Homo sapiens: one gene and its partners. The protein of the gene in region 1 purifies or fractionates together with the protein of each later gene. This does not show direct contact. Each region holds a gene or a part of one and is shown in the gene's direction. Other genes may lie near its edges. The genes, in order: GOLIM4, ATF1, GPC1, PPARA, OCRL and WRAP73.

Region 1 (4,797 bases):
ACCACAGTCCCCAGAGTGTAATATTCCCCTTCCTGTGTCCATGTGATCTCATTGTTCAATTCCCACCTATGAGTGAGAATATGCGGTGTTTGGTTTTTTGTTCTTGCGATAGTTTACTGAGAATGATGTTTTCCAATTTCATCCATGTCCCTACAAAGGACATGAACTCATACTTTTTTATGGCTGCATAGTATTCCATGGTGTATATGTGCCACATTTTCTTAATCCAGTCTATCATTGTTGGACATTTGGGTTGGTTCCAAGTCTTTGCTATTGTGAATAATGCCACAATAAACATACATGTGCATGTGTCTTTATAGCAGCATGATTTATAATCCTTTGGGTATATACCCAGTAAGGGGATGGCTGGGTCAAATGGTATTTCCAGTTCTAGATCCCTGAGGAATCGCCACACTGACTTCCACAATGGTTGAACTAGTTTACAGTCCCACCAACAGTGTAAAAGCGTTCCTATTTCTCCACATCCTCTCCAGCACCTGTTGTTTCCTGACTTTTTAATGATTGCCATTCTAACTGGTGTGAGATGGTATCTCATTGTGGTTTTGATTTGCATTTCTCTGATGGCCAGTGATGATGAGCATTTTTTCATGTGTTTTTTGTCTGCATAAATGTCTTCTTTTGAGAAGTGTCTGTTCATGTCCTTCGCCCACTTTTTGATGGGGTTGTTTGTTTTTTTCTTGTAAATTTGTTTGAGTTCATTGTAGATTCTGGATATTAGCCATTTGTCAGATGAGTAGGTTGTGAAAATTTTCTCCCATTTTGTAGGTTTCCTGTTCACTCTGATGGTAGTTTGTTTTGCTGTGCAGAAGCTCTTTAGTTTAATTAGATCCCATTTGTCAATTTTGTCTTTTGTTGCCATTGCTTTTGGTGTTTTAGACATGAAGTCCTTGCCCATGCCTATGTCCTGAATGGTAATGCCTAGGTTTTCTTCCAGGGTTTTTATGGTTTTAGGTCTAACGTTTAAGTCTTTAATCCATCTTGACTTGATTTTTGTATAAGGTGTAAGGAAGTGATCCAGTTTCAGCTTTCTACATATGGCTAGCCAGTTTTCCCAGCACCATTTATTAAATAGGGAATCCTTTCCCCATTGCTTGTTTTTCTCAGGTTTGTCAAAGATCAGATAGTTGTAGATATGCGACGTTATTTCTGAGGGCTCTGTTCTGTTCCATTGATCTATATCTCTCTTTTGGTACCAGTACCATGCTGTTTTGGTTACTGTAGCCTTGTAGTATAGTTTGAAGTCAGGTAGTGTGATGCCTCCGGCTTTGTTCTTTTGGCTTAGGATTGACTTGGCGATGCGGGCTCTTTTTTGGTTCCATATGAACTTTAAAGTAGTTTTTTCCAATTCTGTGAAGAAAGGCATTGGTAGCTTGATGGGGATGGCATTGAATCTATAAATTACCTTGGGCAGTATGGCCATTTTCATGATATTGATTCTTCCTACCCATGAGCATGGAATGTTCTTCCATTTGTTTGTATCCTCTTTTATTTTCTTGAGCAGTGGTTTGTAGTTCTCCTTGAAGAGGTCCTTCACATCCCTTGTAAGTTGGATTCCTGGGTATTTTATTCTCTTTGAAGCAATTGTGAATGGGAGTTCACTCATGATTTGGCTCTCTGTTTGTCTGTTGCTGGTGTGTAAGAATGCTTGTGATTTTTGTACATTGATTTTGTATCCTGAGACTTTGCTGAAGTTGCTTATCAGCTTAAGGAGATTTTGGGCTGAGACAGTGGGGTTTTCTAGATATACAATCATGTCGTCTGCAAACAGGGACAATTTGACTTCCTCTTTTCCTAATTGAATAGCCTTTATTTCCTTCTCCTGCCTAATTGCCCTGGCCAGAACTTCCAACACTATGTTGAATAGGAGTGGTGAGAGAGGGCATCCCTGTCTTGTGCCAGTTTTCAGAGGGAATGCTTCCAGTTTTTGCCCATTCAGTATGATATTGGCTGTGGGTTTGTCATAGATAGCTCTTATTATTTTGAAATACGTCCCATCAATACCTAATTTATTGAGAGTTTTTAGTATGAAGGGTTGTTGAATTTTGTCAAAGGCTTTTTCTGCATCTATTGAGATAATCATGTGGTTTTTGTCTTTGGCTCTGTTTATATGCTGGATTACATTTATTGATTTGCGTATATTGAACCAGCCTTGCATCCCAGGGATGAAGCCCACTTGATCATGGTGGATAAGCTTTTTGATGTGCTGCTGTATTCGTTTTGCCAGTATTTTATTGAGGATTTTTGCATCAATGTTCATCAAGGATATTGGTCTAAAATTCTTTTTTTTTGTTGTGTCTCTGCCTGGCTTTGTATCAGAATGATGCTGGCCTCATAAAATGAGTTAGGGAGGATTCCCTCTTTTTCTATTGATTGGAATAGTTTCAGAAGGAATGGTACCAGTTCCTCCTTGTACCTCTGGTAGAATTCGGCTGTGAATCCATCTGGTCCTGGACTCTTTTTGGTTGGTAAGCTATTGATTATTGCCACAATTTCAGCTCCTGTTATTGGTCTATTCAGAGATTCAACTTCTTCCTGGTTTAGTCTTGGGAGAGTGTATGTGTCGAGGAATTTATCCATTTCTTCTAGATTTTCTAGTATATTTGTGTAGAGGTGTTTGTAGTATTCTCTGATGGTAGTTTGTATTTCTGTGGGATCGGTGGTGATATCCCCTTTATCATTTTTTATTGCATCTATTAGATTCTTCTCTCTTTTTTTCTTTATTAGTCTTGCTAGCGGTCTATCAATTTTGTTGATCCTTTCAAAAAACCAGCTCCTGGATTCATTAATTTTTTGAAGGGTTTTTTGTGTCTCTTTTTCCTTCAGTTCTGCTCTGATTTTAGTTATTTCTTGCCTTCTGCTAGCTTTTGAATGTGTTTGCTCTTGCTTTTCTAGTTCTTTTAATTGTGATGTTAGGGTGTCAATTTTGGATCTTTCCTGCTTTCTCTTGTGGGCATTCAGTGCTATAAATTTCCCTCTACACACTGCTTTGAATGCGTCCCAGAGATTCTGGTATGTTGTGTCTTTGTTCTCGTTGGTTTGAAAGAACATCTTTATTTCTGCCTTCATTTCGTTATGTACCCAGTAGTCATTCAGGAGCAGGTTGTTCAGTTTCCATGTAGTTGAGCGGTTTTGAGTGAGATTCTTAATCCTGAGTTCTAGTTTGATTGCACTGTGGTCTGAGAGAAGTTTGTTATAATTTCTGTTCTTTTACATTTGCTGAGGAGAGCTTTACTTCCCAGTATGTGGTCAATTTTGGAATAGGTGTGGTGTGGTGCTGAAAAAAATGTATATTCTGTTGATTTGGGGTGGAGAGTTCTGTAGATGTCTATTAGGTTCGCTTGGTGCAGAGCTGAGTTCAATTCCTGGGTATCCTTGTTGACTTTCTGTCTCGTTGATCTGTCTAATGTTGACAGTGGGGTGTTAAAGTCTCCCATTATTAATGCGTGGGAGTCTAAGTCTCTTTGTAGGTCACTCAGGATTTGCTTTATGAATCTTGGTGCTCCTGTATTGGGTGCATATATATTTAGGATAGTTAGCTCTTCTTGTTGAATTGATCCCTTGACCATTATGTAATGGCCTTCTTTGTCTCTTTTGATCTTTGTTGGTTTAAAGTCTGTTTTATCAGAGACTCGGATTGCAACCCCTGCCTTTTTTTGTTTTCCATTTGCTTGGTAGATCTTCCTCCATCCTTTTATTTTGAGCCTATGTGTGTCTCTGCACGTGAGATGGGTTTCCTGAATACAGCACACTGATGGGTCTTGACTCTTCATCCAATTTGCCAGTCTGTGTCTTTTAATTGGAGCATTTAGTCCATTTACATTTAAAGTTAATATTGTTATGTGTGAATTTCATCCTGTCATTATGATGTTAGCTGGTTATTTTGCTCGTTAGTTGATGCAGTTTCTTCCTAGTCTTGATGGTCTTTACAATTTGGCATGATTTTGCAGTGGCTGGTTCCGGTTGTTCCTTTCCATGTTTAGCGCTTCCTTTAGGAGCTCTTGTAGGGCAGGCCTGGTGGTGACAAAATCTCTCAGCATTTGCTTGTCTGTAAAGGATTTTATTTCTCCTTCGCTTATGAAGCTTAGTTTGGCTGGATATGAAATTCTGGGTTGAAAATTTTTGTCTTTAAGAATGTTGAATATTGGCCCCCACTCTCTTCTGGCTTGTAGAGTTTCTGCCGAGAGATCCGCTGTTAGTCTGATGGGCTTCCCTTTGAGGGTAACCCGACCTTTCTCTCTGGCTGCCCTTAACATTTTTTCCTTCATTTCAACTTTGGTGAATCTGACAATTATGTGTCTTGGAGTTGGTCTTCTCGAGGAGTATCTTTGTGGCGTTCTCTGTATTTCCTGAATCTGAACGTTGGCCTGCCTTGCTAGATTGGGGAAGTTCTCCTGGATAATATCCTGCAGAGTGTTTTCCAACTTGGTTCCATTCTCCCCATCACTTTCAGGTACACCATTCAGACGTAGATTTGGTCTTTTCACATAGTCCCATATTTGTTGGAGGCTTTGCTCATTTCTTTTTATTCTTTTTTCTCTAAACTTCTCTTCTCGCTTCATTTCATTCATTTCATCTTCCATCGCTGATACCCTTTCTTACAGTTGATTGCATCGGCTCCTGAGGCTTCTGCATTCTTCATGTAGTTCTCGAGCCTTGGTTTTCAGCTCCATCAGCTCCTTTAAGCACTTCTCTGTATTGGTTATTCTAGTTATACATTCTTCTAAATTTTTTTCAAAGTTTTCAACTTCTTTGCCTTTGGTTTGAATGTCCTCCCGT
Region 2 (4,797 bases), on another chromosome or scaffold:
AAGTGGTTATTTTACCAAGGCTTTGACTGAAATGGTGTGCTTTTCTTTAAGGAATCAAACTTGACTTGTAGAGCCAATAAAAGCCCTTTGGGGAACTGGCCTCATACCTTGCCTACACAGTGCCTGTACAGGGTTTCTGACCTATGGTAAGTAAAGAATGTCACTTTCTCACCTGTCCAGGAGCCCCAAGTTATCTTGGGACCTCAAAAGGAGAGAAATTTACCCAAGTTATAGGTATTTAAGGGTACAAACCCATGTCAGGGCTTGGCTTTTAAAAAAGTCTTATCTGAGATTCCTTATGAAACAGAGTTCCATCAAAGCCAATTAAAAAGCCTATGTGAAAAATTATTATTCTTGCTGCACTTTATACAAACAATCAGGCCAAGTATAATAAAGCAAGTCAGTCTTACCATAATTTGTCTTTAGTAAAAATGGGAAACTGGAGAGAGAAATACTATGTTTCAAAAACTATGGTACACTTGTTATTAAATTCTGGTCTCATTAATTGTTTTTAAGTTTGTTTCTGCAATTTAGGCTAACCCTGCGTATTCTTGTAAACCAACCAGTAATCTCTAATTGTTGCTCAGAAGAAATAAGAGGGATGGGTAATTTAAAAATCTGGATCAGTATTCTGATTCTGGGCACATTACAATCAGCTAACAACCCGATATCAGCTTAGTTCCAGTGGTTGCCTGGTTCATGAAAAGTCTTCTAATTTAGTTTATTTGGAATAACTTTACTTATTTTGCTTTACTCTTTTTTTTTTCTTTCTTTCTTTTTGAGACAGAGTCTTGTTCTGTCGCCCAGGCTGGACTGCAGTGACACCATCTTGGCTCACTGCAGCCTCCGCCTCCTGGGTTCAAGTGATTCTCCTGCCTCAGCCTCCCAAGTAGCTAGAATTACAGGCACACATCACAACGCCCAGCTGACTTTTATATTTTTAGTAGAGATAGGGTTTCACCATGTTGGCCAGGCTGGCCTCGAACTCCTGACCTCAGGTAATCCACCTGCCTCGGCCTCCCAAAGTGCTGGATTACAGGTGTGAGCCACTGTACCCAGCCTATTTTGCTTTACTCTTGTGGAATATATTGCTGTTATACTTTTTGTGTAGGAATACAGGACAAGCTTACTGAACGTTTTCTTACTAATTTTCCAGATACCACCTTTTGTTGAAACTTGAGTTATGAATGAACCTTACCATACTGATGCTTTCTGACTGAGCTCCTTTTTACCCTGAATGCAAGAGACCCTCATAGGCAGGCAGGAATATCATTGCCCTATTTAGCCTGAAGAAGTTATAGAAGATGGATCTTCGTCCCTCTGCAACCCTTAGGATTAAGGGTTCTCTTAGACGGGGGGAAATGTCAGAGGCGTATGAACCAGAGCAACTCCATCTTAAACAGGCTGGGTAAAATGAGGCTAAAACCTACTGGCCTGCATTCCCAGATGATTAAGGCATTCTAAGTCACGGGATGAGATAGGAGGTCAGCACAAAATACAGGTCATAAAGACCTTGATGATAAAACAGTTGCAGTAAAGGAGCCGGCCAAAACCCACCAAAACCAAAATGGCCACGAGAGTGACCTCTGGTCGTCGTCACTGCTGTGCTCCCACCAGCGCCATGACAGTTCACAAATGCCATGGCAAAGTCAGGAAGTTACCCTGTATGGTTTAAAAAGGGGAGGCATGAAAAATCCACCCCTTGTTTAGCATATCATCGACAAATAACCATAAAAATGGACAACCAGCAGCCCTCGGGGCTGCTCTGTCTATGGAGTAGCCGTTCTTTTATTCCTTTACTTTCTTAATAAACTTGCTTTTACTTCACACTGTGGACTTGACCCATTATTTCTTGTGCGAGATCCAAGAACCCTCTGTTGGGGTCTGGATTGGGACCCTGTCCTGTAACAATAGCGTCTCACTGTGTTGCTCAGATTGGTCTCAAACTCCTGGGCTCAAGCGATCCTATCGCTTAAGGGTACAAAGTGTCTCCCAAAGTGCTGGGATTACAGGAATGAGCCATCGCACTTGGCTATATTTTTGCAAGTTTTGTTGTGCCTGAATTGCTCCATTCCTTTTTTTTTTTTTTTTTTCTTTTTTGAGATGGAGTTTCACTGTTGTTGCCCAGGCTGGAGTGCAATGGCATGGTCTCGGCTCACCGCAACCTACGCCTCCTGGATTTAAGCGATTCTCCTTCCTCAGCCTCCCAAGTAGCTGGGATTATAGGCATGTGCCACCACCCCTGGCTAATTTTGTAGTTTTAGTAGAGACCGAGTTTCACCATGTTGGTCAGGTTGGTCTCGAACTCCTGACCTCAAGTGATCCACCCACCTCGGCCTCCCAAAGTTCTGGGATTACAGGTGTGACCCACTGTGCCTGGCCAAGTTGTCCCATTTCTAAAGCTGGGGTGAGGTAACTGTCTAAATATATTTTTCTCTCTCTCTCTCTCTCTTTTATTTTAAGAGACGGGTGTCTCACTTTGTTACCCAGGCTGGAGTGCGCCTAGCCTTTTTTTTTCCCTTCAACTTTTAAGTTCCAGGGTACATGCACAGGATGTGCAGGTTTACTGCATAGGTAAACATGTGCCATGATGGTTTGCTGCACAGAACAACCCATCACCTAGGTATTAAGCGCAGCATCCATTAGCTGTTCTTCCTGATGCTCTCCCTTCCCCCACCGCACCCTCCTCCACAGGCCCCAGTGTGTGTTGTTCTCCCACCATGTGTCCCCGTGTTCTCACCATTCAGCTCCTACTTATAAGTGAGAACATGCAGTGTTTGATGTTCTGTTCCTTTGTTAGTTTGCTGAGGATAACAGCTTCCAGCTCCATCCATGACCCTGCAGAGGACATTATCTCTTTCCTTTTTATGGCTGCATAGTATTCCATGATATATATGTACATGTTCTTTATCCAGTCTCTCATTGATGGGCATATGGGTTGATTGCATGTCTTTGCTATTGTGAATAGTGCTGCAGTGAACATATGTGGGCATGTATCTTTATAATAGAATGATTTATATTCCTTTGGGTATATACCAATAATGGTATTGCTGGGTCAAATGGTATTTCTACCTGTAGGTCTTTGAGAAATTGCTGCACTGTCTTCCACAATGGTTGAACTAATTTACACTCCCACCAACAACGTAAAAGCATTCCTTATTCTCCAAACCTCGCCAACTGTTGACTTTTTAATTGCCATTCTTTTTTTTTTTTTTTTTTTTTTCGAGACAAAGTCTCATTCTATTGCCCAGGTTAGAGTGCAGTGGCACAATCTTGGCTCACTACAACCTCCGCCTCCTGGGCAGCCTCCCAAGTAGCTGGGACCACAGTCACCCACGATGCCAGCTATTTTTTTTTTTCTTGAGACTGAGTCTTGCTCTCTTGCCCACGTTGGAGTGCAGTGGTGCAATTTCTGTTCACTGCATCGTTTCCGCCTCCTGGGTTCAGGCGATTCTCCTGCCTCAGCCTTCCAAGTAGCTGGGACTACAGGTGCCCACCACCACGCCTGGCTAATTTTTGTATTTTTAGTAGAAATGGGGTTTTGCCATATTGGCCAGGCTGGTCTCAAGCTCCTGACCTCAAGTGATCTGCCCGCCTCGATCTCCCAAAGCGCTAGGATTACAGGTGTGAGTCACCATGCCAGGCCGGTAATCGCCATTTGACTGACGTGAGATGGTATCTCATTGCGGTTTTGATTTACATTTCTCTAATGATCAGTAATGTTGAGCTTAAAAAGCTCTTAGTTTATTGCCTAACATATAATGTTTCTTTCTTTGCAAGTTTTCTTTTCTTTTTTCTTTTTTTGGAGATGGAGTTTCACTCTTGTTGCCCAGGCTGGAGTGCATTGGCACTATCTCAGCTCACTGCAACCTTTGCTTCCTGGGTTCAAGCAATTCTCCTGCCTCAGCCTCCCGAGTAGCTGGAATTACAGGCATGTGCCACCATGCCTGGCTAATTTCTTTTTTATATTTAGTAGAGACGGGGTTTCTCCATGTTGGCCAGGCTGGTCTTGAACTCCTGACCTCAGGTGTTTCACCCACCTCGGCCTCCCAAAGTGTTGGGATTACAGGCGTGAGCCACCGCGCCCGGCTGCAAGTTTTCTTAAAAGGGCCCTGCCTTCCCTGACATTCTCTCTATGTCAGCAAGATCTCAGCCCACCATTTCTCAGTTCCTTCTATTCCCATTGATGGTGCTTTTGAAGCGGTGTTTCACTACTCCCTTGTTTCTGCCTGACTTTGGGTTATCTCCTGTTAAGCTTATATATGCTAACTGGGGGCTTACTTTATTTTTACAGAAAATGCATTCGTACATATAAAATTTATTCTGTATTGAACAAGTTTTTAACACATTGTTAATCTTAACCTTAATTTTAGAAATAATAGCTTTAAAAAAGTGAACAAATAAAGGTTACATTCTGATAACATCAGTAAAACAGTATGTACTGTTGTTTATGAGATGAAACTATAAAATTTTTATTTTGGAAAAAAGAGTTTTTTGTTTTTGTTTTTGTTTTTTTTTTTTTGAGACGGAGTCTCACTCTGTCGCCCAGGCTGGAGTCCAGTGGCTTGATCTCGGCTCATTGCAAGCTCCGCCTCCCGGGTTCACGCCATTCTCCCTCCTCAGCCTCCCGAGTAGCTGGGACTACAGGCGCCCGCCACCACGCCCAGCTAATTTTTTGTATTTTTAGTAGAGACGGAGTTTCACCATTCACAGAATGGTGTCGATCTCCTGACCTTGTGATCCGCCTGCCTCGGCCTCCCAAAGTGCTGGGATTACAGGCCTGAGCCACCGTGCCTG
Region 3 (4,797 bases), on another chromosome or scaffold:
TGGGCCAGTGCCTGCTGCCAGGGCTCGGGGTGCCACCCTCCTCCAGACTTGCAAGGCCAGGACTGCACTGGGCAGGATTACTGCCTCTCCAGTCGGTGCCCCTCCGACAGGAACCTCTCTCCCTGCACCCCCTATGGCTGCAGAAGTGGGGAGTAACCTTCGGGACCCAGGGTACAGAAGACAGTGTGGGAGCCACGTGGGCTGAGGGAAACAGGGTGACTCCCTCGGGTCGCAGCAGTCCTGGGGCAGCCAAGCCCAGTGTCCCCTCCTGCTTTGTCGGCTGGGCCTGGGCTCCGTGGAACGGGCGCCCTCTGGTGGCCCCTGGGCGGCAGATCCTCCCAGGAGCCCTGGACCCTCTGTGGCCTAGTAGGCACCATTCTCAGTCCCCTCTCTCCTGCATCCAGACTTCTCCAGGGGGACCTCCTCAGAGGGAATGCGAACCCCCTGGGGTTGGGCACCTCGCTGGCCCGGAGCAGGTGGGGTAGAGATCTGATACTTCCTCGTGGGAAGGAGAGCAGTTGGCCCTGGGTGTGTGGCGGGCCTTCCCAGCCTCTGCCCCAGGGACCAGAAAAGGCAGTGGGTGACAGGAGACTTAGCTCATGAAAGAGGGCAGTGTCGGGACATATTGGGCTCCCTTTTGAGACTTCCTTTGTCCTCTGGACAGCCAGGCCAGGCTGCAGTGACAGCAGTGGTCATCCCATTTTATGGGCAAGGAAGCAGGCCTGGGTGCCACCAGCTGGACGGTGGCACTGCAGCAGGGCACCCGGCCACCCTCCCTTTATGCCAGGGCACGGCACAGAAGGCAAGGGCGGAGCCGAGTGGCACCCCGGGTGCCCCTGCGCTGCCAGGAGCCCTCATGCTGAATCACTGCCCGCGTGCCAGCAGGCCTCCTGCTTTTGCTTGCAAGGTTGTGTCTGGGCATAGGTGTTCCCAGAGCACCTGTCTGGCCTCCTGATGTCTGATGTGATGTGATGTGTGTCTGTTTGCTCCTTTGCTGGGGTCTCAGCGCCCCACCTTGGCACCTGAGCTCCCTGGTCGCTGGGACCACCTCTAACTGTTTCCCTGTTGTAGCCACAGAACCCGGCTGGCTCCCGGCCCAGGATAGCTTCTCGGAGGACACCCCCAGGCCTTCCTGGCTTTATACCTGGCTGTGCTGGGTGGGGAGCGGGACATGGAGGGTAGAGGAGGGTCTCCTTGGAGCAGACACCCCTGTTCTCAGGGTCTCCCAGCCTGAGGCAGAGGAGGGGCCCTAAGGTCTAGTTTTGGGGGCAGAAGTCAGAGTGGGGCATGGGACTGTCGGTGGCACAGAAACTGCCCAGCCGCTCCTGTGCCCAGAGTGGCAGCCCGCCTACCAGCTGGAGCGGGCACCAGCGTGCCCTGGAGCCTGTACCAAGCACCCACTCGTTGGGCCCCTCCGAAGGAATCTTTTCTTCTCTGTGCCACTTTTGACCGCCTGGGTGGTTGGCACACAGACTCTGGGGAACCATCCTCAGAGGGCCTGGACCTCTCCTTCCCACATCCCTGAAAGGGTGTTTCCGGCTGGGCCCGGGAGAGCCCACCAGCATCTGCTTCTCAGTCCTGCTCAGCGGGCCTCTCGGAGGCTGCCTGGCACACAGCCCCTCACCAGACCAGACAGTTCCCTGTGCCCTGTCCTGTCCAGGTGGCTCAGCGTGGTTCCCAGGTGGTCCTCAGCCTTTGCTGTGTCGCTGCTCTTCCCTCCATGAGAGGAGCTCATCATCCCCAGCGTGAGGACCGAGCGGAGCCCAGGGGAGCCCTGATCCGACAGGGCCACCTGCGTGATGCAATGGCCTGGGTCCCTGCTGGACCGCCAAGCCTCCCATGCCAGGCAGGCCACAGCACTCCTCAGGCACAGATGCCCCCACCCCCATCCCATCCCCGGTGTCCCCGGGCCTTTTCACAGGAGAGAAAGGGAATAATCGTGACCTCCTGTGAAGGTGGCCAGGAGGGAGAAGGTGCTGGGGCTGTGCACCTCGTGGGCAGCCTCGGGCTGTGTCCCCCCTCTCCCCGGACACCCTCTGCAAAGGCCCACACACACCCCTCTCAGTTAATGGCATCCGGTACCCTAAGAGCACTCATGAACCCGGGTGCTCTTAGAACACGGGGAAACCCGGCTTGTGGAGCGTTTCCCATGACTGTCTGGTTAACACATCAGACGGAAGGGGTCTTTGTAGACCTGTTTTACAAATGAGTAAACCGAAGCCTGGTGAAGCGCTCCTCTTAGGGCCAGATCTGGCTACAGCATTGACCACTGCCCAGTAAAGCCAGGCCAGGCTGCTTGTCCCAGGCTCTGCACTTCTTGGAAGGCTCGTGCTTTTCCCAGCCCGCTCTCCTGTCCTGGGCCTGGGCTCCATCTCTTAGGCTCATTTAGAACGTTTAACCGGGACTCCTCCTGGCCTCCCTGCCTCCGGTCCTGCCCAGCTCCTCCTGGCCTCCCTGCCTCCGGTCCTGCCCAGCTCCTCCTGGCCTCCCTGCCTCCGGTCCTGCCCAGCTCCTCCTGGCCTCCCTGCCTCCGGTCCTGCCCAGCTCCTCCTGGCCTCCCTGCCTCCGGTCCTGCCCAGCTCCTCCTGGCCTCCCTGCCTCCGGTCCTGCCCAGCTCCTCCTGGCCTCCCTGCCTCCGGTCCTGCCCAGCTCCTCCTGGCCTCCCTGCCTCCGGTCTTGCCCAGCTCCTCCTGGCCGTGCCGCCCAGAGAGTCGTACTTCCACACAGCTGGGCCTCACCCTCCGGCCTGGCTCCACTGCCTGTGGGGGGCAGGACTGCTAGGAGGGCTGTTCCCAGCGTGTGCCACGAAGCCCTGCATGTCCCCAACAGGGCAGACCAGCCACCCACACTGGGCCAAGTGCCCCAGGATTAGTGGACAGGTACCCTATTCAGGTGCCCACAGGTGCCAAGCCAGGGAGATAAGGCAGTCCAGTCTGTTGGGGCTTGTACCTTCACACCAGCAATCTCTAGGGACAGTGTGAGCCTGTGGTTAACGCGCCTTCCCAGGTACCGAGGACGCCTCCCTACAGCAGGACGGGGGGCATACCTACCTGGTGGCCGAACCGCAGGGCTGCACATCAGACCTCGGAGGAGAGCTTAGTGGGTGTCTGAGCATGCCCATGTCTGTTCTATGGCATCCATGTGCATGGCACAGGTGTCAGCCATGGGCTGGCACTAGACAGGAGACGAGCCAGGGGAGGGGCTCACCCGAAGCCACACTGGTCAGGTCTGGCCTGGGGCCCCACATCTGCCGTGCCCGGGCCAGTGAGAGGCTGGACGCCTTTTCTTAAGCCAGACCGTCCTCACAGGGCCTGGCTCAGTTATTTCAGATCAAGACTGGACCCGTGGTGGAGGCTGGGGTGGGCACTCCTACATGCGGGGCCTCTGCCCAGCCCTGGCCCTGTCCAGTGTCGACGTGCCCAGAGCCCTGAGCCGGCCTGGATCTTGCCAGTCGCCAGCACAGCCCTGTGGGGCCCGGGATCTTGCCCACTTTACGTGGGGGCTCCAGACAGGAGCCGCCTGCCCGGAGCCTGGGCTCCTCGCTGCCGTGCCTGTGGTGGCTTTTCTTTGTCTGGGAACAGGCCTGGGCAGGTGCCCTGAGCCGCTTGAAGTCTCCTGACGGGGTGGGGGGTGCAGTGTAGGGTGTTGAGGCTTGGGCCAGGGAAGCGGGCGGTTCTCCCTCCACCTCCAGGCCCCACACCCAGGCGGGAGCACGCAGCAGCCAGGTGTTGGGTGAGGGCTATGCTGAGGAGCAGGGCCCAGAGCTGCAGCCTCCTTGGCTGCCCTTGGCCCGCCGTGGGTGGCGGGGAAGTACAGGTGTGAGGGGCATACCCCACTGCCCCAGGCTCGGTAGCAGTCTGGAATCCGGGTGGGTTTAGGAGCCCCTGAGAGGGCCAGGCCAGCCTCACACCATCCCCTCTCCTGCCTGTGGCCTCAGCTCCATCTCCCGCCAGCTCCTGCTGACCCACCTTTCTGGCACACCTGTCCCCTCCCTCCACGGTGTCCTCCCTGTGCCCACCCACAGCACCCGCCTCCTCCGGCCTTTCCCCACAGCTTGACTTCCCGGGCATCGGCCAACACGTACCCTCCCTGTTGCCGGGGCCCCCGCCTGGGCAGGCCTGAGCTCCACACAGGGTGGGGAAGGCCCCGAGTCCCTCCCGGTACCGGGTGGGGCTGGGTGCCGGGGTTGGGAGCACAAGTGTTTCCAGGGCTGTCGGAACAGTGCCACAGGCTGAGCAGCTGCAGCTGCAGACATGGGTCGTCCGTGGTTCTAGAGCCTGGAAGCCTGAGATCAAGTGTGCGTCCACCAGGCTGGCCCCTTCTGAGGCGTGAGGAAGTCTGCTCCACACTGCCAGCTTCCAGGTGTTCCTTGGCTGGTAAATCCCACCTTGGCCTCCACAGGCCGCTCTCCCCGTGTGCGCTTCTGTCTCCGAATTCCCCCTCTTCACAAGGACACAACTCTAATTGGGTCAGGGCCCACCGGTACCATCTCTTCTTAACGAGAGGTGTCACACAGACTCCACACCCAAAGTCACATCCTGAGGAATCGGGGTTAGGCCTCAGCCATGTGGGTTTTGGGGGTACAGTTTAGCCTGTAGTGGGGAGCTAGCCCAGCCCGGCACACCTACATCTTCCCATCAGGTGGCAAAGACCCCGAGGCTCTGGGTGTTTTGTGATTGTGGCCTCCTGAGCACTGGGCCGTGTTTCTGTAATGGGCTTAGAGCTCAGCACAGATGTGCCCGAGACCCTGGTGACAGTGTGAGGGAGTGACCACGCCCCAGCCTGCCACTCACCCCC
Region 4 (4,797 bases), on another chromosome or scaffold:
TTTAGGATTTTTCAAAGGCTTTCAGAAAGCAACATGCTACCGTACCCCTTATACACCAAAACTGGTTTTCATTTTGGAATATAAAAGTGAGATTTCTCCACCAGTACAATAAAGTTGTTACAAGTGGTTCCTATGTGTTTGTTTTTGTTTTTGAGACAGAGTCTCACTCTGTCACCCAGGCTGCAGTGCAGTGGCACAATCTTGGCTCACTGCAACCTCCGCCTCCCGGGTTCAAGCAATTCTCCCACCTCAGCCTCCTAAGTAGCTGGGACTACAGGCACCCGCCACCACGCCCAGCTAATTTTTGTATTTTTAGTAGAGATGGAGTTTCACCATGTTGGCCAGGCTGGTTTTGAACTTCTGACCTCAGGTGATCCACCTGCTTCAGCCTCCCAAAGTCTTAGGATTACAGGCGTGAGCCACCACACCCGGCCTCCTGTGTGTTTTGAAGGTGATTGTGACCTCAGGTTTTGGCAGGGCTATACCTTGTGTTTGCTCTTACTCCAACTCCATGGCATACCTGGACCAGGCCTCTTCATCTTGAAGAGGGATCTGCTGAAATGCAGGCCCAGTGAATCTCCCCATGCCTGGACACAGTTCCGTCAAGCCAGGACCCGGTGCTGCCTGCACCCCTGTTTCTGTTAGTCTGACTGTCCTCGCTGAGTCTAACTCCTTGAGGGCAGAGAGGATGTCTTATTTATTTCTGCCCCGCTAGCCGTGTAAACTGAGTAGGTACTTGTAAATGTTCATTGAATAAGTACCTGATTAATAGAATTTAATTCAAGAAGAATGTATTGATGGGCCTGTGTGGTCACCACAGTACTGAGATGTAGGTGGGAGCTGGCTGAAGGGGGAGGCACCTAAACAGGAGTGCAGACAGCGGCACCTACGGATGATGGCCCGCTCCATCCCACCGCAGCGAAATTGTCCCAGACCTCTGCAGCTTCCCCCACACCTAGACTGAGAGAGAGCTCTTCTTCCTTCTGTAGGGAGCAGGTGTTTCCTCCAGATGTCCAATATGTACCTCCCATTACAGCGGTGTTAGGAAGGTGAGGGCTGCCGCTGAAAGGGTCCCCTTCATAATCATCACTAGATTTGGGGTATATTATGGATTAAATAGAATTTTTATAAGATGACCTGAGGATCTATTTAAATAAAATCCTCTTTCTTTCTGCAAGATCATGGATTTAAATTCAACACAACTGACTTCATAGGGAAGGGGTATGGTGAAAGGGAAGTGAGGTGGGCAGCACTGATATTTAACAAGGTGAGGGTCCTTCTCCTGCTCTGACTGTCACATTAAAATATTCCCAGGAGAAATTGGAGAAAACTCAGATGAAATATCGTCTGTGTTCCAGGAGGCAGGACTCATCGGAATGCTTTTATTTTGCTCCATTTTAAGAGATTTGCAGATAAAGAGGAGTGAAGATTTCTATTCAGATTTACTTGCTTTATATTTTAACTTATAGACCACAAGCCAACTTTCGAAAGAGCATCATTTTGAATAGTAAGAGTTAGGAAGGCAAATACAGAAGGACTAATGGCTTCCAAGATTATGAGCTTCATAGGAATGGTTTGAGATGAGGCTATAGTAAAGCAGAATATTGAAGTTCCCCCACCCCCTTTCATTTTTCATTTTTCATTTTTAAGAGTGAGCGAGGCCAGGCGTGGAGGCTCACACCTGTAATCCCAGCACTTTGGGAGGCCGAGGTGGGCAGATCACAAGGTCAGGAGTTTGAGACCAGCCTGGCCATCATGGTGAAACCCTGTCTCTACTAAATGTACAAAAATTAGCCAGGCTTGGTATCAGGTGCCTGTAATCCCAGCTACTCAGGAGGCTGAGGCAGGAAAATTGCTTGAACCCAGGAGTCGGAGGTTGCAGTGAGCTGAGATCGCACCACTGCACATCTCAGAAAAAAAAAGAGTGAGGCCCCAAGTTTTTTTGCATTTGTTTGTAACTGAATACGTCTGAAGTTATGTGATAACCACGCCAAGGTGACAAATTGCCAAGTTTCAGTAAAAGAGACCCAGTTATTTAGAGGTTGACACGTGGATATGTCCCTTTCTAAGAAGTTCGTGGTCAGCTTTACATGAGTATTTAAATGCGTGTTTATAATTCAGCAATATGGCTTGTAAAATACAGATTGCCAATCAAGTGACATGCAAATCTTGATGATCTGAAACAAGTTTTCTTCTGTTATCTATGGAAGAAATGGTAATAGGGATATTTAAGTGGGATGAATTTTTTGAAGCATTTTCAGGCAGTTTTCCACATGGAACAAAATAACATTGAGTGGGCTGCTAACATGAGGAACATATTGCCCTCTGCCTAGGATTATGAGTAAATTTGATAAATTCTAGACTGCAGTCTCATTTTAGCTCATTTTATGAGGCAGCTTGACAACTGGGATAGTGTCTCTTTTTTTTGTCGGGGGTGTTGAGGCTGGAGTCTCGCTCTGCTGCCCAGGCTGGAGTGCACTGGCGTGATCTCGGCTCACTGCAACCTCTGCCTCCGGGGTTCCAGTGGTTCTCCTACCTCAGCCTCCTGAGAAGCTGGGATTGTAGGCATGTGCCACCACGCCCGGCTAATTTTTGTATTTTTTAGTGGAGACGGGCTTTCACCATGTTGGCCAGGCTGGGTCTCAAACTCCTGACCTGAAGTGATCTGCCCGCCTCAGCCACCCTAAGTACTGGGATTACAGGCATGAGCCACCACACCTGGCTTCTGTTCTATCTGTGCATTGGGGATGAAATTAACACAAATGATGTTTAAAGAAAAAAATGCTCAGAGAAGTTAGAAATGTGCTTTAAATTGGAATCATCTCTTAGTATGTAAAAGTTTTTTGTAATAGAAACAAGCAGGGCAGTATTTGACCTGTTGACAGTGTCCTTGGACTTTACAATTTGTGAAGCAGCGTATTTTGCTTGAGTTGTACGATTGTCGTTTTTTTCCCCCCACTTTGACAACTGTTACAGAACCTGTCACCAGATACAGGCAAGGGAGGTTGGGCTTCCCATCTCTGCACGGCTTCCCTGTGATTCACAAGCAAGCAATCAGAAGTGCACAAAAGTTTAGAACGCGATTTTCATTCTCTTCTTTCCTTAGAAAAACTCGCTTTGTTAGCCTTTTCCAGAAAGGAAGGCACTCAATTGTTGTAATACTCAAATCATAAAAAGAAGCCTAGTCTAGTCTATTCAGCAAGGTGTTCTGAAAGAGGGAATTTTTTAAGTTCAATTATGCGAAGATCTTGAAGGTGGGACTCAAAGGAGAGGGCTATCCTGGGAAGAAGGCTTTGGAAAATGAGAGGCATGAAGGGGAGAGGGTATTTAAATGTGTTTGAAGCCAAGGATCCTTGAGAGAAAAAGCTGGCACTAACAGCGTTCAAAGAACTTGCGTGACAAGTGATGACTAATGACACTGAGGGTGGGTTGTGGGTGCCTAGTGAATTCCTCCGAAGCCAAGAGAGAGGTTTCCAGACCCAGGGAAGAAGGTGTGTACACCCAGAAGTAGTGTAGGGACAGAGATTCCGATCACAAGCTGTGACTGGAAGACGCCGACCACCACTGCAGCAGCCTGAAAACCACAGTCTTGAACCGCCAGCGAAGGGCTGGGAAGTGCGGATCCAGGGCTGGTGCACTGAACCCAGAGGAGCAGGCTCCCATTCCCAGCTAAGGGTGGCAGCTGGCGGGGATCTTTCCAGCAGAAAGCTGTAAGTGGAAGCTTTCAATTCAGAGCAGTAGCAATGCCTTCAAAGTCCCAGGCTTCACGTGGGAACAGAGAATGTGAAGAGTATTTAGCAGGATGCCAATATAAGAAATCTATATTGGTGTTCGTTTGTTTGTTTTTGAGATGGAGTCTCGCTCTGTCACCCAGGCCGGAGTGCAGTGGTGCGATCTCAGCTCACTGCAATCTCTGCCTCCTGGGTTCAAGCGATTCTCCTGCCTCAGCCTCCTACATAGCTGGTACTACAGGCACGCGCCACCATGCCTGGCTAAATTGTTGTATTTTTAGTAGAGATGGGGTTTCACCACGTTGGCCAGGCTGGTCTCAAACTCCCGGCCTCATGATCCGCCCTCTGCAGCCTCCCAAAGTGCTGGGATTACAGGCGTGAGCCACCGCACCTGGCCCAATATTGTTTGTTTATTTATTTCTTGACAGGATCTCACTCTGTCACCAGGCTGGAGTGCAGTGGTGTGATCTCAGCTCACTGCAACCTCCACCTCTCTGGCTCAAGCAATCCTCCCTCCTCAGCCTCCTGAGCAGCTGGGACTACAGGTGCACACCACCACACCCAACTAGATTTTGTGTTTTTTGTAGAGATGGGGTTTAGCCATGTTCAGCTAGTCTCAAACTCCTGGGCTCAAGTGATCTGTCCGCCTTGGCCTCCCAAAGTGTTGGGATTACAGGTGTGATTCATGATGTCCAGCCCAGTATTTTTCTTTCACTCTGGAAACCAAAAATTATTGGCTTTTTTTCCTGTTGCATTCCCTTTACTTAGATGAATCTAGCAAGGTTGGCTGTTAGTGTCTAGGTCAGAAGTCTAAGTGAAAGTGAATATTTAACCACACTCAAGCACAGCTGATGATCTTTAATACTAATAGAGGTATAAGACTTAAAAGAAACAAGAACCCAGAGGGAAAATATGGCCATGGACTCAGAGAAAACCACGGCAGCTTCCATGGACTCATAAAAAGAGCTCAAAACCTAGGAAGTGGATGGAGACTCTTTTTGGAATGAATGAATTCAAATGTGGGCTTTCTTAGTAGATTAAATCATTTTCTAGAAGGAATTTCAGA
Region 5 (4,797 bases), on another chromosome or scaffold:
CATTTGCTGGAGACACCTAATACCATAATACCATCTGTAATCCTCATATTCTTGTCTCTCTGGTGTCTTTTCTGACTCGAGTGTCCAGAACTTTTTACTTTTGGCTTTTTTATCCTAGAACTTGAAGCCTGACTTAAATCTTTAGGTCTGTGGTTCCTACTGTCAACCATAGGAAATTTGCTTGACCAAAATTACAATTAAAAATCAGGGTTTTTTTGGAAACAGGGAATCAAACACTTAAGATTCATATTTTTCAAGGATAATAGATTATGACAAAACCTGTTTGACCTTTAACCTTCCTTGAACAAATCAAAGTGTTTCCTAGGGATAAGGCAGAGTTGGCATTCAGGATTTGTCACTCTTTTCTGTTTGACAACTACCAAATTCTGAATTCCATTGTTTTGCTGTATACCAATTATTTCTAATCTTTATATTCTGAAATGAATAATTACACTCAGAATTTTTATGCTTATTCTTAGCCCTACTCTTTTATTGTAATTTAGTGGGTAACACGTAGTAAATACTCAATAAATGTTGGTGAAATTCACTTAAATTCTCAGTTTATTTGTTTTGTAATAGTTTTTAACAGTACTGTCCAGATGAAGCTTTAATGCTAATGTTCAACACCATTTCTTGTTTATGTATTTTGAGATTTTAGTGGTTTGTGTTTATCTTCCTCAAAGTAAGCTCTTCCTCCTTAACCCTTGATTTCTCAGCCTTTTATCTGGTTTCTGGTTTCCATCTGGGTTTATAGGACTCTCCACTCAACTCATGAACTTTCCAGATGGAAAGGGGCCTGCCCCATATTCCTGTAATCACCTTAGAGTACAAACCCCTGCAAATTAGGCAAGAAGGATCACAGCAGAAAAACAGCATTAATACTTTTATTTCCCTTAGTTCTATCTAAGTAATTACTTATCCTATCCCAGGTTATCCTCTTCAAAGTTAACACATTTGAAAATGCAAAAAGCAAAAGCAACAAGCACCCCCAAAAGACAACAAAATAGAAATCAAACCCTTCAAAACAATGACATTTTAATGTCAGAAGTTGGACAGTTTCATTGAAAAATTCACCGCTGCTTATAGCTTAATTAAGCTAGTTAATTTATTCAGCCAGTATTTGTTGAGCATCTATTAGGCTGCAGACAAAACTGAATATGATCTGGTCTTTGCTTTCAAGGAGCTGAAATCAGTGAGGGGAAATAAATATAACCATAATGGAGTGTGTAAGTGTTCTATTAGAGGGGCAAACAAAGGCGATAAGGCTGCTGGTTCTGCTTGGGGGTACTGAGGACAGTTTCATGGAGGAGGTGATATTTGAGATGAAACTCGGAAAGAAACAGAGTGTTCCTGACAAAAAACTAAAAACAATACTTGAAGAGTGCTTGACTTTGAGAATGCTAGTTGACGTTCAGAATGGCTGTTTACCAGTAGGTCGTACCTTGATTCTGGACCACTAAGGATAAATAATAAATGAAAAATTAATATTTCAGGAGTACGTATGGATTTAGAAGTATGGATTTCATCTGGGGAGTCAGGTTTACTCATGTTTATGTAGAAATACCAGCGTAAACTTGGAAACCAGAGAAGAAACAAGGGATTTGAAGGCAATCCAGTTGTGATATCTGCCACCTTGTTGGTCACTGATATTTTGACCAATCCAGCTGGCTGAGCACCCCCTCTTACTCCTCCATGAACCTGAATGCTTGTTTGAAGAGACAGATCCATTCTTTGGTAAAAAGCCATGGGAATATAATTGGAAGGTTAATTTATGAATTTTCTAATTCATTGATTCCACACACACGAGCAACTCCTGTGTGCCAGGCTTTGTGCTAGGTACTAGAAATTCCGTGGTGTAAAGATAGCTGTGGTCCCTGCACTCATGGACTTCACATCTAGCTGTCAGTTCTTCACTCTGGTATGCATACTCTGAAGCTATATACTCTGTAATTCATGCTCTTAAGCTTGTACACTGTTTTTAGGATATATGGCCTAGAGAACAGTGTGGGTAATCAGATGTTCATCACCACTAGCATCCTTTTAGGCCTAGAGCAATATCTAGCTGTCATGATGCTCAGATCCAGGGAACTAGATGCAGCAAGTCTAGTAAATACAGACTAGATTTGTATAACAGGACAGTGAAGTATTTTTTTGCTAAATGAGTTTTTCAGTGGCTGTTCTTTGATGCGTTCTTCTGTTTCCTAGGTTAATAATCCAGTTGCATGAGAAGGAACAGCATGTTCAAGATATCATTCCTATAAATAGCCACTTCAGATGTGTTCAAGGTACTAGCTTTAATTCCTTAGCTAGTTTTATAATGTTTTTTCTCGGTCATTACTGCATTATGTAATACCATACATATTTAAATTTGTCAGTGCATGTAAAATGAAATGTATTACTCTTTGCATAAAAAGATAACATTGAGGAGATGATACTTTCTCTAAGAATGCTGAAGGGTTATATCGAAATATATTTGTATATGTGTGTCTATAGTCTCACCTGTTTCCTTGGCTTGGGTTAGAGATGTATGTAGATTGTTACCTGTGTAGGTAGTTTTTTATGCTGACTGACCTATATGTGGATTTAAATAACATTCTTGGGCTTAACGGACACAGTGCTCATAAGGTACCAAGGTCACTTGGATTCACACACATTCAGCACTTTCTCCACATGCTATTTGAAATTAAGACATTTGGCAACATGCCTTGCCAGACTGTAATATCTTACACTCAATTGTGCTGATTCTCAAACCTTGACATTGGTGAATCATAAGAAAATTGACTCTGGGGAGGAAATATTTGGCCTCCTGCCCTCAAATTTGGGGACGGAGCATAGAAAATCTGTTGTTTCATCTGCTACAATGAAACTTAAAAATTGGGAGGTTTGTGTAGGAGGTGTTGCTTCTGTCATCTCACATTGCTCTAGAAAGGAAATTGATACTAGAGAACAAATGCATTCTGTTTTCACTAGGACCAGTGGCTTTATCTAGCAGAAGCATTCTGTATCAATTGTAGCTTCTTGGAAAACTTGTTTTTTCAAGACAAGGTCATTTCCCAGGCTCAAGTGATCCTCCCACTTCAGCCTCCCAAGTAGCTGGGACTGCAGGTGCACCACCCCCCAGCTAATTTTTTTTGTAATTTTTGTAGTGACGGGGTTTCGCCATGTTGCCCAGGCTGGTCTCAAACTCCTGAGTTCAAGCAATCTGCCTGTCTCGGCCTCCAAAAGTGCTGGGATTACAGGTGTGAGCCAGCATGCCTGGCCTTTCTTGGAAAACTTAAATCTTACCTTGCATGGATTATTTCTTAAACTACATTGAACTTTTTTTTTAATCACTAAGTGACATGTACATAATGTAATACATTTGGAAAGAACAGAAAAGTGTAAAGAAAATAGGTCACTTAAATTCCCATCCTTTCAGAGATAAACACCTAGCATTTTCCTTTTTTCTACACATACATTGCAGGGTGAGTGATACTCATCTTATACAATTTTTTGTCTCTTCTACATGCTATTGTATTATGAGCACTTTTCCATGCCATTAATGGCTATATACCATACCAGTTTATGAATGGTCCATAATGTAATTATTCCCCTATGTTGACATTTGGGTTATTTTTCACTAGTATCAATAGTAATATGATGAACATCTCTGCACCTAAATATACCTGCACATCTCTTATTTCCTCAGGATGTATTCCTATAAGTGAAAATACTAAGCTAGTGGATATGACTTTTTAAGAATGCATGTGTTAAGAATTAAAAATAACTTCAATGAATAGTGTCCATATTTGTATGGAAGAATGAAGTGATAGCTATTTAGCCTGCCCTATGTGAGAGAGACATACTAAACAAGGTAGCCACGTTCCATAGTAAGTTGCTGTGGCCACCTCACTTTTCAAGGTGTAGGCCTTCACAGAGGGGAAGAGCCAAAGAACATGACTTTAAATTAATATCCTATTAGCTTTGTACCTTTTTACTCTACCTCTAGGATCTCTTTTACCCTGTTTCTCTTAGTATTTTTAATAAGAAATCAATTGCTGATTGTTAGATCGTAGTGCTGCTTCTTAGAACCTGGGAAAATATGTGCACACATGTAACGTAGTTCCCCATGACTAAAGGAAGACTTACTTTTGATTTTCATCTCCTTTCTATTTCCTGACCCCTGCATCTATTTTGTAAACTGTGGCCAGGCGCGATGGCTTGCACCTGTAATCCCAACATTTTGGGAAGCTGAGGCAGGAGGATTGCTTGAGCCCAGGGGTTCAAGACCAGCCTGGGCAACATTGCGAGACCCCATCTGTACAAAAATAAAATTAAAAAAACAACATTTGCCAGACGTGGTGGCAGATACATGTAGTCCCAGCTACTTGGGAGGCTGAAGCAGGAGGGTTGCTTGAGCCCAGCAGTTCGAGGCTGCAGTGAGCTGTGATTGTGCCACTGCATGCTAACCTGGGTGAGAGAGTGAGGCCATCTCTAAAGAAAAAGAAAACCGGCTGGGCGCGGTGGCTCAGGCCTGTAATCCCAGCACTTTGGGAGGCCAAGGTGGGCAGATCACAAGGTCAGGAGATTGAGACCATCCTGGCTAACACGATGAAACCCCGTCTCTACTAAAAATACAAAAAATTAGCCGGGCATGGTGGCGGGTGCCTGTAGTCCCAACTACTCGGGAGGCTGAGGCAGGAGAATGGTGTGAACCTGGGAGGCGGAGCTTGCAGTGAGCCGAGATCGTGCCACTGCACTCCAGCCTGGGTGACAGAGCAAGACTCCGTCTCAAAAAAAAAAAAAAAAAAAGAAAAA
Region 6 (4,797 bases), on another chromosome or scaffold:
ATTTAACTACCTTTTTTTCTTATTGGGTTTTTAAAAGTTGCAAAGTTATCTTTTAAAGGTTTTTGTTTCTTTGTTTTTGTGAGATGAAGGTAAAAATCAGGCTTAAAGTGCTCCCTGTGTTTCCTAAGATGTGCCTGAGTGGGGAGCCTCGGCCAGGCGCACCCCACAGGGATGCAGGGCCACAGGTGGGAGATGTGCTTTTCTCCTGTGACTCTGCAGTAGGCTCTGGAGGGCAGGTCTCTGCCCTGGGTGGCACATGGACTCTCCTGATGCTGAGAGGCTCGGGCGCTGCACCCCGCCCTGCTGATGCTGAGATGCTTGGGTGCTCCACCCCGCCCTGCTGATGCTGAGATGCTCCGTTGCTGCACCCTGCCCTGCTGATGCTGAGATGCTCGGGCGCTCCACCCTGCCCTGCTGATGCTCAGAGCCTCGGGCGCTCCACCCCGCCCTGCTGACGCTCAGAGCCTGGGGCGTTCCACCCTGCCCTGCTGATGCTCAGAGCCTCGGGCGCTGCACCCCGCCCTGCTGATGCTCAGAGCCTCGGGCGCTGCACCCCGCCCTGCTGATGCTCAGAGCCTCGGGTGTTCCACCCTGCCCTGCTGATGCTCAGAGCCTCGGGCGCTCCACCCCGCCCTGCTGATGCTGAGATGCTCGGGCGCTCCACCCCGCCCTGCTGATGCTCAGAGCCTCAGGCGCTGCACCCACCCTGCTGAGTCTGAGAGGCTTGGGCAAGGTTTCAGCCTCAGACACGCTGGTGGGAAGTAGCACGCTTCCTCGCTCAGGCCCCAGCGCCCTCCTTGGCCTCAGCTTGTGGAGCTGTTAGAGGAGCAAGTGCTCTGTGCAGCTGGAGTTCCGAGGCATGGTCCCCAGAACGGCCAGTGTGTTTCGGGTTCAGCATCAGCACAGGAGCCCTTCCGTGCTGCCACGTGACCCCTGGAGCTCGTTGATCCACTACCTGTGTGTTCAGGACTTCTCTCCTGAACGCTGTATATGTTGTTTGGAGAAACAATTACAGACATCAGATTTTCTTTTCTGTTGTAAGAAGAGATGATGCGTAGACATTTAAATTAAATCATTTGTTAATATCCTATACTGACAACCTGGCAGCGTTTGCAGGAGTGACACTGTGGACATGCTGTGCCCCACACGCTGCGGCCCCACTTACGCTGCTGGAGACGGTCCCCCACCCCGGGCCTCATCCTCAGCGAGGACCCCTGCCTGACACACACGGAGCTGGCAGTCAGCACCCCACCCCGCATGGAGCTGCGCAGCCCTGTGTCCCCACACACGGAGCTGGCAGTCAGCACCCCACCCCACATGGAGCTGCGCAGCCCTGTGTCCCCACACACGGAGCTGGCAGTCAGCACCCCACCCCGCACCTTGTGTCCCCGCACCTCGGCCATATTTCAGTTAACTACCAGATTCATCAGTGGGCCGGGGATGTGGGAAGCAAGATGATTCCCTGGTAGGCTCCACGGGGTCTCAGTGGGAAATGCAGGTGGAGGGACACAGCAGCCCTGGAAGTCCCGCGGCGCTGCCACGGGGAGGGCTGGACCACCCACTGCGGTGCCTCTCCCTCAGCAGGCACGCCCTCGTCGGCCTGGTTAGAAAATCATCTTTTGGCCTCACTGTGCCAGCCTAGTCAGCTCTCAGCTCCCTGAGTCAGGGAAAGGGGTGGAAAAGTGGACAGTCCAGCAGCGCATGTTCTAGAACCCTCTGCAGATGCAGCCAGGCCAGCGAGCACACGCAGGAGGCAGACGGACACCTTCTTGGGTGTTGAGTGGCTGCTCCTGCCTCAGGGCTGCAGATGCAGGCTCACAGCCCCCTGGTGAGTCCCGGAGTGGCTGCATCCAATCTCCAGATCCTCTGTCTTCCCATAAAGGAGACTGAACCCGTGGTGGTTTCTAGATCAAGATTTTTCTCTGAGTAACTCAGGGTTATTATAACATGCAACCTATGGTCACTTTGAAAAAGCTAATGAAAAAGCACTTGGATTTAACTTTGTGTCACTCAATTTTGGTATAAAACAACAACAACAGAAAACCAAGAACACCAAATTTACCGTAACCACAGTAAAATACGCATTTGAATATTCCGGTAGGAGGGCAGGCATCCCCCAGGTCCTGATAGATCCACTCCAGCAGTCAGGCCTGTGCTTGGGGACGCGTGGGCGGGTTGAGGATTGAGACGGTCTCTGATGATGCTAAAGAAGTGTTTCCTTTCTCTTTCCCCTTTCCCCCAACAGCTGCGGATAACCGTCTGGTCCTTGTGCACAAAATCCGTGTCTTACATCAAATACCCGAAAGCTTGTCTGCAGGGTGAGTCGATCGGAGCCACGCAAAAGCCATTTCTTTGCAGCTGTTTGACTTTTTTGTCACGGGAAGTTTCAAAGAGGCAGAAGTAGCTTCAGCAGCATATCAACACATAGCCAACCCCCTTGGGCTCTTTTAAAGGAGACCTTAGGTCTCCTCATACTTCATCTGTAAATATTTCCATATGTGTCTCAAAAAGGCAAGAGTCCCCTTTTAAAACATGACCACAGTGACTCAAGACAACGTGGCCTAAGACATGGAAGAACGGTGGCGTTGATGCCGGTCCCCTTGACCTTGGCGGCAGAGCTGGGCGTTCAGACCCCTTCCAGCCGATGCCTGTTGAGAGGCCCACCTCAGGCATCCAGTTCTGAGCTTTCTCTCTTCTGTGGACTAAATATGATGTCTGCGAAAGGGGGAGGTCTTGCCTGTCATCTCTGGGCATCCCAGAGGGATATGTGACCAGTGTCCCTTCCTTGTGGAAGCCTGTGAGCCATCTGGAAGAAAGGGGGCCGGCGCAGGGTGGCCCACTGCCAGCGCGTCTAACTGGACCGCGCAGAGCTAGTGGGAGGTGCCACTCCTGAGTCCTGGACGACACCGCACTGTCTTTTTGCGGAATGAAACATACACAGTTGGAATGATGCTTTCATTTTTCTCTGTTGCTGCCAGCGGTTTGGAAATTGCATTTGAATGCAATGCAGTCACACTCTTATTCTTATAGTTGGAATATTAGCGTCCCTCCAGATGAGATACATATCTCTTGATAGGAGTGGACACCGTGGTTTCGTCATTTGAGGTATTCTTTTCACTCAGGAATGATGAATTCTGGCCTAGGGCTTTTTAAGCTAATACAGAACTGGAAAATAAGAGTTTAACATTTTCAACTAAAGTTTCTTCCACATTTTCATCTTATTATTACTTTTTTGAGACAGGGTCTTGCTCTGTCACCCAGGCTGGAGTGCAGTGACACGATCACAGCTCAGTGCAGCCTCGACCTCCTGGGCTTAAGTGATCCTCTCACCTCAGCCTCCTGAGTAGCTGGGACTACAGGCACACACCATCACAGCCGGCTGATATTTTGTAGAGATGGGGTTTCACCAAGTTGTCTGGGCTCCTTTCAAATTCCTAGGCTCAAGCGATTCACCTGCTTCAGCCTCCCAAAGTGCCGGGATTACAGGCGTGAGCCACCATGCCTGGCCACACATTTTCATCTTCAGTTTACTTCTTCCAAATAATTAAATTCAAAGGTAAAATAAATATGGTAGGAACCAGCTGCCTTTTGCCTAGCTGGAGATAGCCCTGGGTGTCCCGCAGCTTAGACATGGGGGGACTCGAAGGCCTGTGTTTCTCACTCATATTTGTGATTAATCAGAGGTCACATCACTTGGTATTTTTGACAGAGCCTTGCAAACCGGCTCCTGTGTGTGTACAGCTTCCCCCAGCACACACTGCGTTGTGAGGGTGAAGGCACCGTGCCTTGGGTTTCTCCTCTGCGCTAGAATGTTCTTGTCTGTCTGAGGAGCAGTGCTCGGCATTGTGCCATTTCCCTTCTTTTCACCTCTGCTTTCTTTTCCTCCTCCTTCCTTGTGAATTACTACTGTGGTTTCTCTTGCTTGATTTTGTGGCCGCTTGATTTCAGTGCATTTGCCTCTTCCCACAGGAATCACCTTCACCAGGGACGGCCGCTACATGGCGCTGGCAGAACGGCGCGACTGCAAAGATTACGTGAGCATCTTCGTCTGCAGTGATTGGCAGCTCCTGCGGGTAAGGCGTCCCCCAGACTGGAATAAAGTTGTCCTGCTGACTGTGGAGGGATCGAGTGAAGTAGATCCTTCCAGATTCCAGGGGATCTTTGGTAGGATATGGAGCAAGGTGATGTTGTATTAACAAAGGGCAGGTGCGCTGCGAATCACTTCCAGTGGCACCCGGTTGTGTGTTCAGGAGACTTGGTGAAAAGGACGCGTGCCCAGGTGTTTTAAAAGTGAATATGCTGTCACATTTGAGCCCTTTTCCTTGTCCTGTGTGATGGTGTTTGCGCATGTGTGTGCCACGTCGGGAGTTGGGGGGACGTGGAAGTTCACCTTGACTGAGGGCCTGCATTAGGCAGGGCGCTCTGCCAGGTGCCCAGGCACAGAGGGCACTGCCCCCACAGCAGACATATGAACACGATTCCAGCACAATCCATCATTAAGGTAGAGCAACCTCTGGAATGCTGTCAGAGTGCAGAACCCGGGATCCAGGCAGTGCTCTGGAAGGGACTTGTCTGAGCTGGGTCTAAAGGAGTGAGCCTGGCCAGGCAAGGAAAGGTGAGGGGGAGAGTGTGCACATGAGTGCAGGTGCGGGGAGACCAAGCCACCTTCGGGGGCTGGCCAGGCAAGGAAAGGTGAGGGGGAGAGTGTGCACACGAGTGCAGGCGCGGGGAGACCAAGCCGCCCTCGGGGGCTGGCCAGGCAAGGAAAGGTGAGGGGGAGAGTGTGCACACGAGTGC

The links.
Region 2: the proteins of GOLIM4 (region 1) and ATF1 purify together in Homo sapiens (co-immunoprecipitation; one large-scale study listed by IntAct). This does not show direct contact.
Region 3: the proteins of GOLIM4 (region 1) and GPC1 purify together in Homo sapiens (co-immunoprecipitation; one large-scale study listed by IntAct). This does not show direct contact.
Region 4: the proteins of GOLIM4 (region 1) and PPARA purify together in Homo sapiens (co-immunoprecipitation; one large-scale study listed by IntAct). This does not show direct contact.
Region 5: the proteins of GOLIM4 (region 1) and OCRL purify together in Homo sapiens (co-immunoprecipitation; one large-scale study listed by IntAct). This does not show direct contact.
Region 6: the proteins of GOLIM4 (region 1) and WRAP73 purify together in Homo sapiens (co-immunoprecipitation; one large-scale study listed by IntAct). This does not show direct contact.

The regions. Positions count from the first base shown.
Region 1 is NC_000003.12:168,012,096-168,016,892, reverse strand, and holds part of GOLIM4 (Golgi integral membrane protein 4), read left to right. Parts: intron 1-4,797. UniProt on the Homo sapiens protein: Plays a role in endosome to Golgi protein trafficking; mediates protein transport along the late endosome-bypass pathway from the early endosome to the Golgi.
Region 2 is NC_000012.12:50,770,244-50,775,040, forward strand, and holds part of ATF1 (cyclic AMP-dependent transcription factor ATF-1), read left to right. Parts: intron 1-3,205; exon of another isoform or gene 3,206-4,797.
Region 3 is NC_000002.12:240,438,131-240,442,927, forward strand, and holds part of GPC1 (glypican-1 precursor), read left to right. Parts: intron 1-4,797. UniProt on the Homo sapiens protein: Cell surface proteoglycan that bears heparan sulfate. Binds, via the heparan sulfate side chains, alpha-4 (V) collagen and participates in Schwann cell myelination.
Region 4 is NC_000022.11:46,156,468-46,161,264, forward strand, and holds part of PPARA (peroxisome proliferator-activated receptor alpha), read left to right. Parts: intron 1-4,574; exon of another isoform or gene 4,575-4,797. UniProt on the Homo sapiens protein: Ligand-activated transcription factor. Key regulator of lipid metabolism. Activated by the endogenous ligand 1-palmitoyl-2-oleoyl-sn-glycerol-3-phosphocholine (16:0/18:1-GPC). Activated by oleylethanolamide, a naturally occurring lipid that regulates satiety.
Region 5 is NC_000023.11:129,542,753-129,547,549, forward strand, and holds part of OCRL (inositol polyphosphate 5-phosphatase OCRL), read left to right. Parts: intron 1-2,205; coding exon 2,206-2,285; intron 2,286-4,797. UniProt on the Homo sapiens protein: Catalyzes the hydrolysis of the 5-position phosphate of phosphatidylinositol 4,5-bisphosphate (PtdIns(4,5)P2) and phosphatidylinositol-3,4,5-bisphosphate (PtdIns(3,4,5)P3), with the greatest catalytic activity towards PtdIns(4,5)P2.
Region 6 is NC_000001.11:3,636,271-3,641,067, reverse strand, and holds part of WRAP73 (WD repeat-containing protein WRAP73), read left to right. Parts: intron 1-2,245; coding exon 2,246-2,318; intron 2,319-3,969; coding exon 3,970-4,073; intron 4,074-4,797.